3 linked regions of the Homo sapiens genome follow. The protein of the gene in region 3 interacts with the protein of the main gene of each other region in a biochemical or structural test. Each region holds a gene or a part of one and is shown on either strand. Other genes may lie near its edges. The genes, in order: MCF2, G6PD and CDC42.

What was found.
Region 1: the proteins of CDC42 (region 3) and MCF2 form a complex in vitro, tested with the Homo sapiens proteins (2 studies listed by BioGRID).
Region 2: the proteins of CDC42 (region 3) and G6PD form a complex in vitro, tested with the Homo sapiens proteins (one large-scale study listed by BioGRID).

What each region holds. Positions count from the first base shown.
Region 1 is NC_000023.11:139,706,039-139,709,869, reverse strand, and holds the start of MCF2 (proto-oncogene DBL), read left to right. Parts: upstream 1-1,702; 5' UTR 1,703-1,764; intron 1,765-3,831. UniProt on the Homo sapiens protein: Guanine nucleotide exchange factor (GEF) that modulates the Rho family of GTPases. Promotes the conversion of some member of the Rho family GTPase from the GDP-bound to the GTP-bound form. Isoform 1 exhibits no activity toward RHOA, RAC1 or CDC42.
Region 2 is NC_000023.11:154,530,709-154,533,917, reverse strand, and holds the end of G6PD (glucose-6-phosphate 1-dehydrogenase), read left to right. Parts: intron 1-248; coding exon 249-342; intron 343-789; coding exon 790-976; intron 977-1,115; coding exon 1,116-1,351; intron 1,352-1,455; coding exon 1,456-1,532; intron 1,533-1,637; coding exon 1,638-1,730; intron 1,731-1,827; coding exon 1,828-1,918; 3' UTR 1,919-2,527; downstream 2,528-3,209. UniProt on the Homo sapiens protein: Catalyzes the rate-limiting step of the oxidative pentose-phosphate pathway, which represents a route for the dissimilation of carbohydrates besides glycolysis.
Region 3 is NC_000001.11:22,080,209-22,083,708, forward strand, and holds part of CDC42 (cell division control protein 42 homolog isoform 1 precursor), read left to right. Parts: intron 1-1,513; coding exon 1,514-1,586; intron 1,587-3,500. UniProt on the Homo sapiens protein: Plasma membrane-associated small GTPase which cycles between an active GTP-bound and an inactive GDP-bound state. In active state binds to a variety of effector proteins to regulate cellular responses. Involved in epithelial cell polarization processes.

The sequences.
Region 1 (3,831 bases), on a different chromosome or scaffold from region 3:
CACTATGGAAAACAGTATGAATGTTCTGGCCCAGAAAAAATCCAGGCATTTATGGTCATATTATCAATTACCATATGATCCAGCAATGCCACTACTGGGTATATATCCAAAGAAAATGAAATCAGTCTGTCAAAGAGATATCTACACTCCCATGTTCATTGCAGCACTCTTCACAATAGCCAAGATATGGAAGCAACCTCAAGAAAATATTTTTTATATATACTGTATATATATATATATATATATATATATATGAATGATAGCATTCGTGTCTATATAGTGTATATATATACGAATAGCATTCGTATATATAGTATATGCTATATATGCTATGTATATAGTATATGCTATATATGCTATGTATATAGTATATGCTATATATACTATATACATAGTATATATAGCATATACTATATACATAGTATATGCTATATATACTATGTATATAGTATATGCTATATATGCTATGTATATAGTATATGCTATATATGCTATGTATATAGTATATGCTATATATGCTATGTATATAGTATATGCTATATATGCTATGTATATAGTATATGCTATATATACTATACTATATATACACAAATGCTATTCAGCCTTTAAAAAAGAATGAAATTCTGTCATTTGTGACAGTACGGATGAACCTAGTGGACATTATGCTAAGTGAAATAATCCAGACACAGAAAGAAAAATACTGTATGATCTCACTCCTATGGGGAATCTAAAAAAGTCAAACTCATAGAAGTAGAAAGTAGAATGGTGGTTTCCAGAGGATGGGGCAGGGTTTTGGGAGATGTTGGTCAAAGGATGCATCATTACACGTAGACAGGAGGACAAAGATCAAGAGATCTATTTTTTAATTTTTAAATTTTTTTTCATATTTTTATTTGTATATATTTTTTGAGATGGAGTCTTACTTTATTGCCCAGGCTGGAGTGCAGTGGTGTGATCTCAGCTCACTGCAACCTCTGCCTCTTGGCTTCAAGCGATTCTCCTGCCTCAGCCTCCTGAGTAGGTGGGATTACAGGTGTCCGCCATCACACCCAGCTAATTTTTGTATTTTTAGTAGATATGAGGTTTCACCATGTTGGCCAGGCTTGTCTCGAACTCGTGACCTCAAGTGATCCACCCACCTCGGCCCCCCAAAGTGCTGGGATTACAGGTGTGAGCCGCTGCGCCCTGCCAAGAAACCTATTGTACATCATGATAACTATAGTTAATAACAATATATTGTGTACTTGAAAACTGCTAAGAGAGTAGATTTTACATGTTCCCACCACAAAAAGGATACATATGTGAGGTAAAGAAAGTATTAATTAGCTTGATTTAGCCATTCCAGGATGTATACATACATCAGAAATCATATTGTACACCATACAATTTTTATTTGTCGTGTACAAAAAAAGATATGCCCAGCTTCTTCTGCATTTTGTGCAGAAGTATTTTGTTTTCAAACTGTCGGGCTAACTCTTGAGTGGGCGTTCTGTTTCTCCAGATTTGTCCTTGTAAATAAAAAAAAAAATTAGGTCTCCTTCCTCTACTGTGATACAGTGTATGATTTATAATTTTGTTTCTGGGTTCTACTTCAAGTCAAGGCTTCTCTACACTTTCAGTTGCTGACATCAGATTGGCTTTGAAACTTTTTTTCATGTTAAGAGCAAGAAGGCTTTTGTTCTTGGAGCAGGCAGAGAGTATTGTACATTCTTTTGGCCGAGGAAACAGAATGAGCTGCGACAGTCTTAAGGACAAACATTTGTGGTAAGTATTTCTTTACCTTAGAGTAATATAAGAAATGGATTGGGGCAATGAGTGGGTCAGTCTTGGAATATTTTTATAGATAGCATCCCCCATAGCCAGTCATTTTCATTCTTGTAGTAGTTTCCCCTTTTCCCCAGAATCCCCCATTTCTAGGACCAATGATTTGCAGGACACAGTGCAGTTCTTGTAAAGGTGTATCTGTCCATACAGACCGCAATAGCCTGCTTTGGGTTTCTCTGACAGTTCTTTGTCTACTGTTCAGTTTTTTCTAAAATAATTAGGATTCCCAAGTAAAGGCAGGTGGGAATTTCTCAACTCTGGATTAGAACTTCACCACTGTAAACCTGGAACTATTAGTATAACAAATCTGGTGTGCACCTGGGCTTCATGGGATGGCTGTACCTTGGTGTGGTTCCTATGCAATGTATGGGCCTCAGTCTCTGAGCCGTCTAGGGATTAGGACTTGAGAAATTGCCTTGTGAACTTGCATATGGTTGGCTTATAAATTTGGACAGCAGATTATTTATTTTCAGTGGGTAAAAGACCATTCCATTATTTGTGTCCAGTTCTTTTTAAGCACGCAAATTTTCCAGACCAAGAAGAACTACCTTGGTCCCCAGAAGGTAGCCGGGGGGATGTAGACTTGGAGAGCAAAGAAAAATGGGAGGTCTTGAGGGCAATCTTCCAAAAGAATATGGTGATGTTTCTCACATTTTTTAAAGCAGGGTCTCTAGTGAGGCAAAACCACATTTTATTCTTGCCTCTATAGTATTTATTTGTGGAGGTAGAAAGTTTCTGGGGAAGGAGTGGGACTGTTTATATGAAGAACCTAGAGGTCTTCTCAGAATGAAAGGATTGGAAACTCCAACCCTTTTTTTCTCTGATATGCAAGGTTCTTGAAAGTTGCTTGAGGGGCCCAAAAAGATCCTAAGGAAAACTCACCAAACTTGGTGAGAAAGAGGTAGAAAGGGATGGGAGCAGCTCCCTCCCAGAGCCCTCCATCCTTCTTTTTTCATCTGAGCTGGTTACTCTGCCGGCTAGCTGCACATCTCTTTCTGAAATTCCCTTTGTCTGTGCTCCTGTATCGGATCATTATTTCCTAGATTCATTGTCTTGCTCTTCATTGATGTACTTCATCATTTTTTTGGGGAATACATTCTCTACTAACTTCTTTATATGGGTTATAAACTTTTATTAATAATAATAATAATAATAATTATGTCTGAAAATATCTTAGACAACCTTTATTTTTGTTTGAGAGTCTGACGCAGTATAAAGTTCCAAGCTGAAAAACCTTTTCCCCCCTGATTTTGTGTTTATTTTTCCATTAGTTTGTAGAATCCAGTGTTGCTATTGAGAAGTTCAATGTCATTTTGTTTCATTTTTTTTCAACTTTAATTTTAGATAAGGGGGTACATGTGCAGATTTGTCATATGGGAATATTACATGATGCTGAGGCTTAAGGTACAGATCCTGTCATCCTGGTAGTGAGCATAGTACCCAATAGTTGTTTTTTTTTTTATCCTCCCCACCTCCCTGCACCCTCTAGTAGTCCACAATATCTGTTGTTCCCATATTAATGTCCATGTGTGCTCAATGCTTAGCTCCCTTCATAAATGAGAACATGTGGTATTTGGTTTTCTGTTCCTGCACTAACTTGCTTAGAATTATGGCCTCCAGCTCCGTGCATGTTGCTGCAAAGAATGATTTCTTTCTTTTTTATGGCTGCCTAGTATTCCATAATGTATATGTAGCACATTTTCTTTATCCCATTTACCACTGATGGGAACCTGGGTTGACTCCATGTCTTTGCTATTGTGAACAGTGCAGTGATGAACATACAAGTGCATGTGTCTTTTTGGTAGAATAATTTCTTTTGGGTACATACCCAGTAATGGGATTGCTGTGTCCAGTGGTAGAATTGTTTTAAGTTCTTTCAGAAATCTCCAGACTGCTTTCCACAGCGGCTGGACTAATTTACATTTCCACCAACAGTGTATAAGTGTTTGCTTTTCTCTGCTGCCTTGCCAGCCAGCATCTGTTGTTTTTTGACTTTTTAGTAATAGC
Region 2 (3,209 bases), on a different chromosome or scaffold from region 3:
AGTGTCTGAGCTATCAGACCGGGCTGGAAAGGGCTGGACCCCTACACAGCCAAGCACCCCACGGTTTTATGATTCAGTGATAGCATCACCATGTCCTTCCTTGATTTAAGGGGACCTGGAAGACAAGGGGGATCAGGAAGTGAGTCTTGCAGCTTGTCACTAGGAAGCCTTGTTTGGGGTCCCCATGCCCTTGAACCAGGTGAACAGGGCGGGGAGCTAAGGCGAGCTCTGGCCTCTTCCGTCCCCAGGGACGTGATGCAGAACCACCTACTGCAGATGCTGTGTCTGGTGGCCATGGAGAAGCCCGCCTCCACCAACTCAGATGACGTCCGTGATGAGAAGGTAGGGGGTGCACCCCAGTCCCCAGGAGCATGCCCTGTCGCAGGCCCATCTGTGACGAGGCACTGAGCTGGGGTGTGCATGCAGAGCAGGTGTCCTCAACCCCGGAGAAGTCACCACCTCTGAGCACAGCGTGGCCTCCCGGAGGTGACCTGGACTGGCAGTCATGAAGCCCAAGTTGTCATGTCCCAGGCCTGACAGTCACTATGTGACCAGGGAAGGCCATTGCCTCTCTGGGCCTCAGCTTGTTCATCAGAATAGACTCGAGATGGACCAGGGTGGTCCTGGAGGGTCCTCAGGGAGGGGCCCTGAGCTGGGCCTCTGGCAGGGTGAGCAGAGCCAAGCAGGGGCCTCCTCCTGCCCTGAGGGCTGCACATCTGTGGCCACAGTCATCCCTGCACCCCAACTCAACACCCAAGGAGCCCATTCTCTCCCTTGGCTTTCTCTCAGGTCAAGGTGTTGAAATGCATCTCAGAGGTGCAGGCCAACAATGTGGTCCTGGGCCAGTACGTGGGGAACCCCGATGGAGAGGGCGAGGCCACCAAAGGGTACCTGGACGACCCCACGGTGCCCCGCGGGTCCACCACCGCCACTTTTGCAGCCGTCGTCCTCTATGTGGAGAATGAGAGGTGGGATGGTAGGTGATGCCTTCGAGGCCCAGCAAGGCAGAACTGGGCATGCCCTGTGTGCGGGCACTGGAGCTCCCACTGAGACACTCACGCACTGGTCCACACCCTGAGAGAGCTGGTGCTGAGGCTGCCCTTTCCGCCACGTAGGGGTGCCCTTCATCCTGCGCTGCGGCAAGGCCCTGAACGAGCGCAAGGCCGAGGTGAGGCTGCAGTTCCATGATGTGGCCGGCGACATCTTCCACCAGCAGTGCAAGCGCAACGAGCTGGTGATCCGCGTGCAGCCCAACGAGGCCGTGTACACCAAGATGATGACCAAGAAGCCGGGCATGTTCTTCAACCCCGAGGAGTCGGAGCTGGACCTGACCTACGGCAACAGATACAAGGTGCCCTACAGAGAAGGAGCAGTGTGGAGGGTGGGCGGCCTGGGCCCGGGGGACTCCACATGGTGGCAGGCAGTGGCATCAGCAAGACACTCTCTCCCTCACAGAACGTGAAGCTCCCTGACGCCTATGAGCGCCTCATCCTGGACGTCTTCTGCGGGAGCCAGATGCACTTCGTGCGCAGGTGAGGCCCAGCTGCCGGCCCCTGCATACCTGTGGGCTATGGGGTGGCCTTTGCCCTCCCTCCCTGTGTGCCACCGGCCTCCCAAGCCATACCATGTCCCCTCAGCGACGAGCTCCGTGAGGCCTGGCGTATTTTCACCCCACTGCTGCACCAGATTGAGCTGGAGAAGCCCAAGCCCATCCCCTATATTTATGGCAGGTGAGGAAAGGGTGGGGGCTGGGGACAGAGCCCAGCGGGCAGGGGCGGGGTGAGGGTGGAGCTACCTCATGCCTCTCCTCCACCCGTCACTCTCCAGCCGAGGCCCCACGGAGGCAGACGAGCTGATGAAGAGAGTGGGTTTCCAGTATGAGGGCACCTACAAGTGGGTGAACCCCCACAAGCTCTGAGCCCTGGGCACCCACCTCCACCCCCGCCACGGCCACCCTCCTTCCCGCCGCCCGACCCCGAGTCGGGAGGACTCCGGGACCATTGACCTCAGCTGCACATTCCTGGCCCCGGGCTCTGGCCACCCTGGCCCGCCCCTCGCTGCTGCTACTACCCGAGCCCAGCTACATTCCTCAGCTGCCAAGCACTCGAGACCATCCTGGCCCCTCCAGACCCTGCCTGAGCCCAGGAGCTGAGTCACCTCCTCCACTCACTCCAGCCCAACAGAAGGAAGGAGGAGGGCGCCCATTCGTCTGTCCCAGAGCTTATTGGCCACTGGGTCTCACTCCTGAGTGGGGCCAGGGTGGGAGGGAGGGACGAGGGGGAGGAAAGGGGCGAGCACCCACGTGAGAGAATCTGCCTGTGGCCTTGCCCGCCAGCCTCAGTGCCACTTGACATTCCTTGTCACCAGCAACATCTCGAGCCCCCTGGATGTCCCCTGTCCCACCAACTCTGCACTCCATGGCCACCCCGTGCCACCCGTAGGCAGCCTCTCTGCTATAAGAAAAGCAGACGCAGCAGCTGGGACCCCTCCCAACCTCAATGCCCTGCCATTAAATCCGCAAACAGCCCCTCCTGTCCCCTTGTCATTTGCTTCCCTGAGGACCCACTTCCTTGTCCCACTCCCCAAGTCACCCGGGTGCTTCCTCTGTGGCCACTGAGGAGCCTCCTCACTTCTGGTTCTGACCCCATGTCCAGCCATGACCATGTTTGGTGTCAGAGACACCTCCTGAGTCCTCCTCCGCTCCACGCATATTGTCATTGTGAGACCAGCTTGAGGTGCAAGGATGTGGGGTCACCTTCCGCTCTTACTGTCCATGTCCCTGCCCCACCCAAGATGACTTCCAGCAACACTGCCAGTCCACAGAAGTATTTAGGAAGGAGAGGGGATGGGTTTTGTGACTGATGTCAGAGGCCAAGGGAGAGGGGACAGTCCACAGTGATGCACAGCCAGGCCCAGCCACCCCTTCCAGGCAGAAGGGCCACACACTGGGCAGCTCTCAACATAGGCTGATTCTCCCAGTTCTGGAGGCCAGAGTCCAAGATCCAGCACTCCCGCCAGAGGCCCAAGGGGAGGGTCCTTCCTGCCCTCTCCAGCTCCTGGGGAACCAGGCATCTTGGGCTGGTGGTCACCTCACTCCACTCACTCTGCCTGTCTTCTCGTGGCCTCCCCATGGTGTGACTTCTATGTCCTAACTCAGCGACATCTGCAGACCTCCTATTTCCAAATAAGGCCACATCAGGAACTCCCAG
Region 3 (3,500 bases):
ATTACACTAGCATAAGTAGACTTTGGAATGGAAGCCAGCTTTTCTGATTCTTAGTCTAGTTTTGGATATGAACAATCTAGTAAAGGAGGGTTGTTTTTGAGTCTCTTAAGTGTGATTTAAGAAAATAATCTGTTTGGTTTGAGAGCTTAACCACATTCATTCAATTTCTTTGTTCCTGTTTTTAAGAACCGACTTTCCTTTAACTGTCATCTCCCTCATGCCCTTGCTTCTCTTCTTTACATTTAAATAAGCTCTGGAACAATCTGTTAAAACATAAGTCAGAAAATCAGAGTAGGTACCTAAAAGTTAAGTAGGGCTGGTCTTAAAATGTGGCATTCTTCTCCTAGTTGGAAAGCTTTGCTTTTCTTTTTATAGATATCATTTAATTTTAAAATTTTTACTGTAAATTGACAGATTATAGTTGTATATGAAAGCATTGCTTTTCAATTGTAAATTAATTCTAAAGACTCCAGAATTTGTGTTGGGTCTTTTCCCATTTAGCATTGTTAAACCTCCCATTTTCACAAATAACTTCGTACAACCGATATTAGCATATGCTTTACTGAATTTGATAAGGGTTTTATGGTCTATTTACATATTAAGCATCTTGTTAAAGAAGATGTCTTAGATCATGCAGTTTGTGCCCAATAACATGAATTTTACTCATAAAATTCCCAGCTGGCTGGGTGCAGTGGCTCACACCTGTAATTCCAGGACTTTGGGAGGCCGAGGCAGGTGGATCATGAGGTCAGGAGTTTGAGACCAGCCTGGCCAACATAGTGAAACTCTGTCTCTACTAAAAATACAAAAATTAGCTGGGTGTGGTGGCATGCACCTGTAGTCCCAGCTACTCAGGAGGCTGAGGTGGGAGAATCGCTTGATCCCAGGAGGCAGAGGTTGCAGTGAGCCGAGACCATGCCATTGCACTCCAGCCTGGATGACGCAGTGAGACTCTGTCTCAAAAAAAAACTTCCCAGCAAATAATCTGCCAGCTTTTTCTTGGACACTTTGAGTACTTTGAGGGAACCGTTATTTCTCTCAAATGGGCTTGTTTATAACAAGGCTCATCTTTTCTAGGACTCTGAAAGGAAGAAAGGTCATGGATCTAGGATATTTTATTTCTAGATGAAAAGGAAATGGTCTATGAAGAAGTAGTTTCTTAGGAATCAGATTGAATGTTGAGGTAGACCACTGTCTGAAAAGTTTCAAACTTGAACAGGTTCATTTTGTGTAGCTAGAGGACTCTGCTCCTGTGACACCTCTAAACCTTCTCTGGCTCTTTATCCAGGCTGCTGGGGTAGAGCAGAAATCTCAGAACACATCCTTTGTCTTTTTCCAGGAATCATTTAGCTCATGCAAGGACTGGTTGGCAAGATTGGTTATATAAGGATGATGGATGGACTAGGGGACGATTAAGTCTTAGCAAGGAAACACTGCCTTAGCTTAAGAGTTGTCCTGTCCCATTTTAACTCTCTCCTTGCACACTAACAGTGTTGTATTTTTTTGTTTTTAGGTTTTTGACAACTATGCAGTCACAGTTATGATTGGTGGAGAACCATATACTCTTGGACTTTTTGATACTGCAGGTGAAAACTTAATGTCTTTTATACTGTTTTGATCTTTAACAGTTGCTAGTTGTCTGTCTCTTGTGGACATTTTGAGAAACTAGCACATGAGCAAAGTACTTGCCTTTTGTTATTAGTTAGCAGGATTGAATATAATGATTGTCGATGCTTGACCAAGGAGCAGTCCCAGACCTGGGTCGGCAAATAGGAGTTTGGAGTACCCTGGGTGAACAGTGTAGTAGATGAAGTAGAGTGAGACTAGAGTGCATCATACAAGCTCCAAATTGAACTAAAATCCTGATGCGTGCACCTTGCAGAGAACTGGGGACTGCATTAGTGGTTGGGGAGGGACTAAGGGAATGAATTCATAGGAATCATGCCCACTGATTCTCTCCCTTCACCCCTACCTGCTCCTTTTTAAAGCCTAGAGTTTCCTAAATATGCCTAAGGTTATAAGGTCATAAGCCATTTACAGTATTTATTATTATTACTCTCTTGATATTTGAAGGCATATTCAATTTATGTGTCTAATAACATGTTTAGTTTCTTACGATAGATAGCTTATTTTAAACTGTATCTGAAAATATTTTGAGAGTGAACTATTATCTGCTCACAGTATTGACATTTGTCAGCTATCCAAATTGTAAGAACAAATTACTTTCTTCCTTAAATGTACCTAATTCCTCAGTGCTATTTCTTGTTTTCAAGAGTGGCTGCACATCTTAATTTCTGACTTTTCTCTATGTGCCGTCTTATTATCAGCTCAGTTAGCCAGAGGAAAATCTCAGAAAGATATCCTTTAGAGTATCTTTAGAATGTAGGAATTCTAAACTTTGTGCTTTGAGTTACTGTTACTGTTTGCAAGTTAACATGTTGCTTCCATGGAATGTGGTGTTACACTGTGTACCACGAGGAACTATTTGGATTTAATTGAGAACGTGAAATGGAGAGACAGTAAAGATTAGAGAAATTTTTAATACATTAAAATCATAAAAGTAATGGTATATTAAATTTGGAATATAGAGAAAACAATGACCCATAATGTCATGATAAATGAGGGGTTTTCTTCTGTGTTCATTTGTGTCCAAAGGCACAGAGAAAATTTTTATTTTTTTTTTTTGTTGAGATGGAGTTTTGCTGTTGTTGCCCAGGCTGGAGTGCAATGGTGCAATCTCGGCTCACCGCAACCTCCGCCTCCCAGGTTCAAGCGATTCTTCTGCCTCAGCCTTCTGAGTAGCTGGGATTACAGGCATGCGCCACCATACCCGGCTAATTTTTTTGTATTTTAGTAGAGGTAGGGTTTCTCCATGTTGGTCAGGCTGGTCTCGAACTTCTGACCTCAGGTGATCCGCCCGCCTTGGCCTCCCAAAGTGCTGGGATTACAGGTGTGAACCACTGCGCCTGGCGAGAAAAGATAATTTATGGCTACTTGTGGTTGAAAATTAGTATTTTCAGATTTCAAAGTTTATTATTTATAAGCCTTTACATTTTCTGGCGAGTACTTTTGAAAGCTTTTTTGATGCGTAGTGCAATAAAAATCATTTTAAGGCCAGGCGCGGTGGCTCACGCCTGTAATTGCAGCACTTTGGGAGGCTGAGACAGGCAGTTCACCTGAGGTCAGGAGTTTGAGACCAGCCTGGCCAGTATGGTGAAACCCCATCTCTACTAAAAATACAAAAATTAGCCCAGTGTAGTGGTGTATGCCTGTTAAGTCCCAGCTACTTGGGAGGCTGAGACAGGAAAATTGCTTGAACCCAGGGGGCGGAGGTTGCAGTGAGCCGAGATTCTGCCACTGCCCTCCAGCCTGGCTGACAGAGTGAGACTCCGTCTTTAAAAAAAAAAAAATCGTTTTAAGTGTTCAGTGTGATGCATTTTGCTGACCCTCCACCATAATAAAATGTGTAACATTTTTATCACCCCTCAAATTTTCTGTGG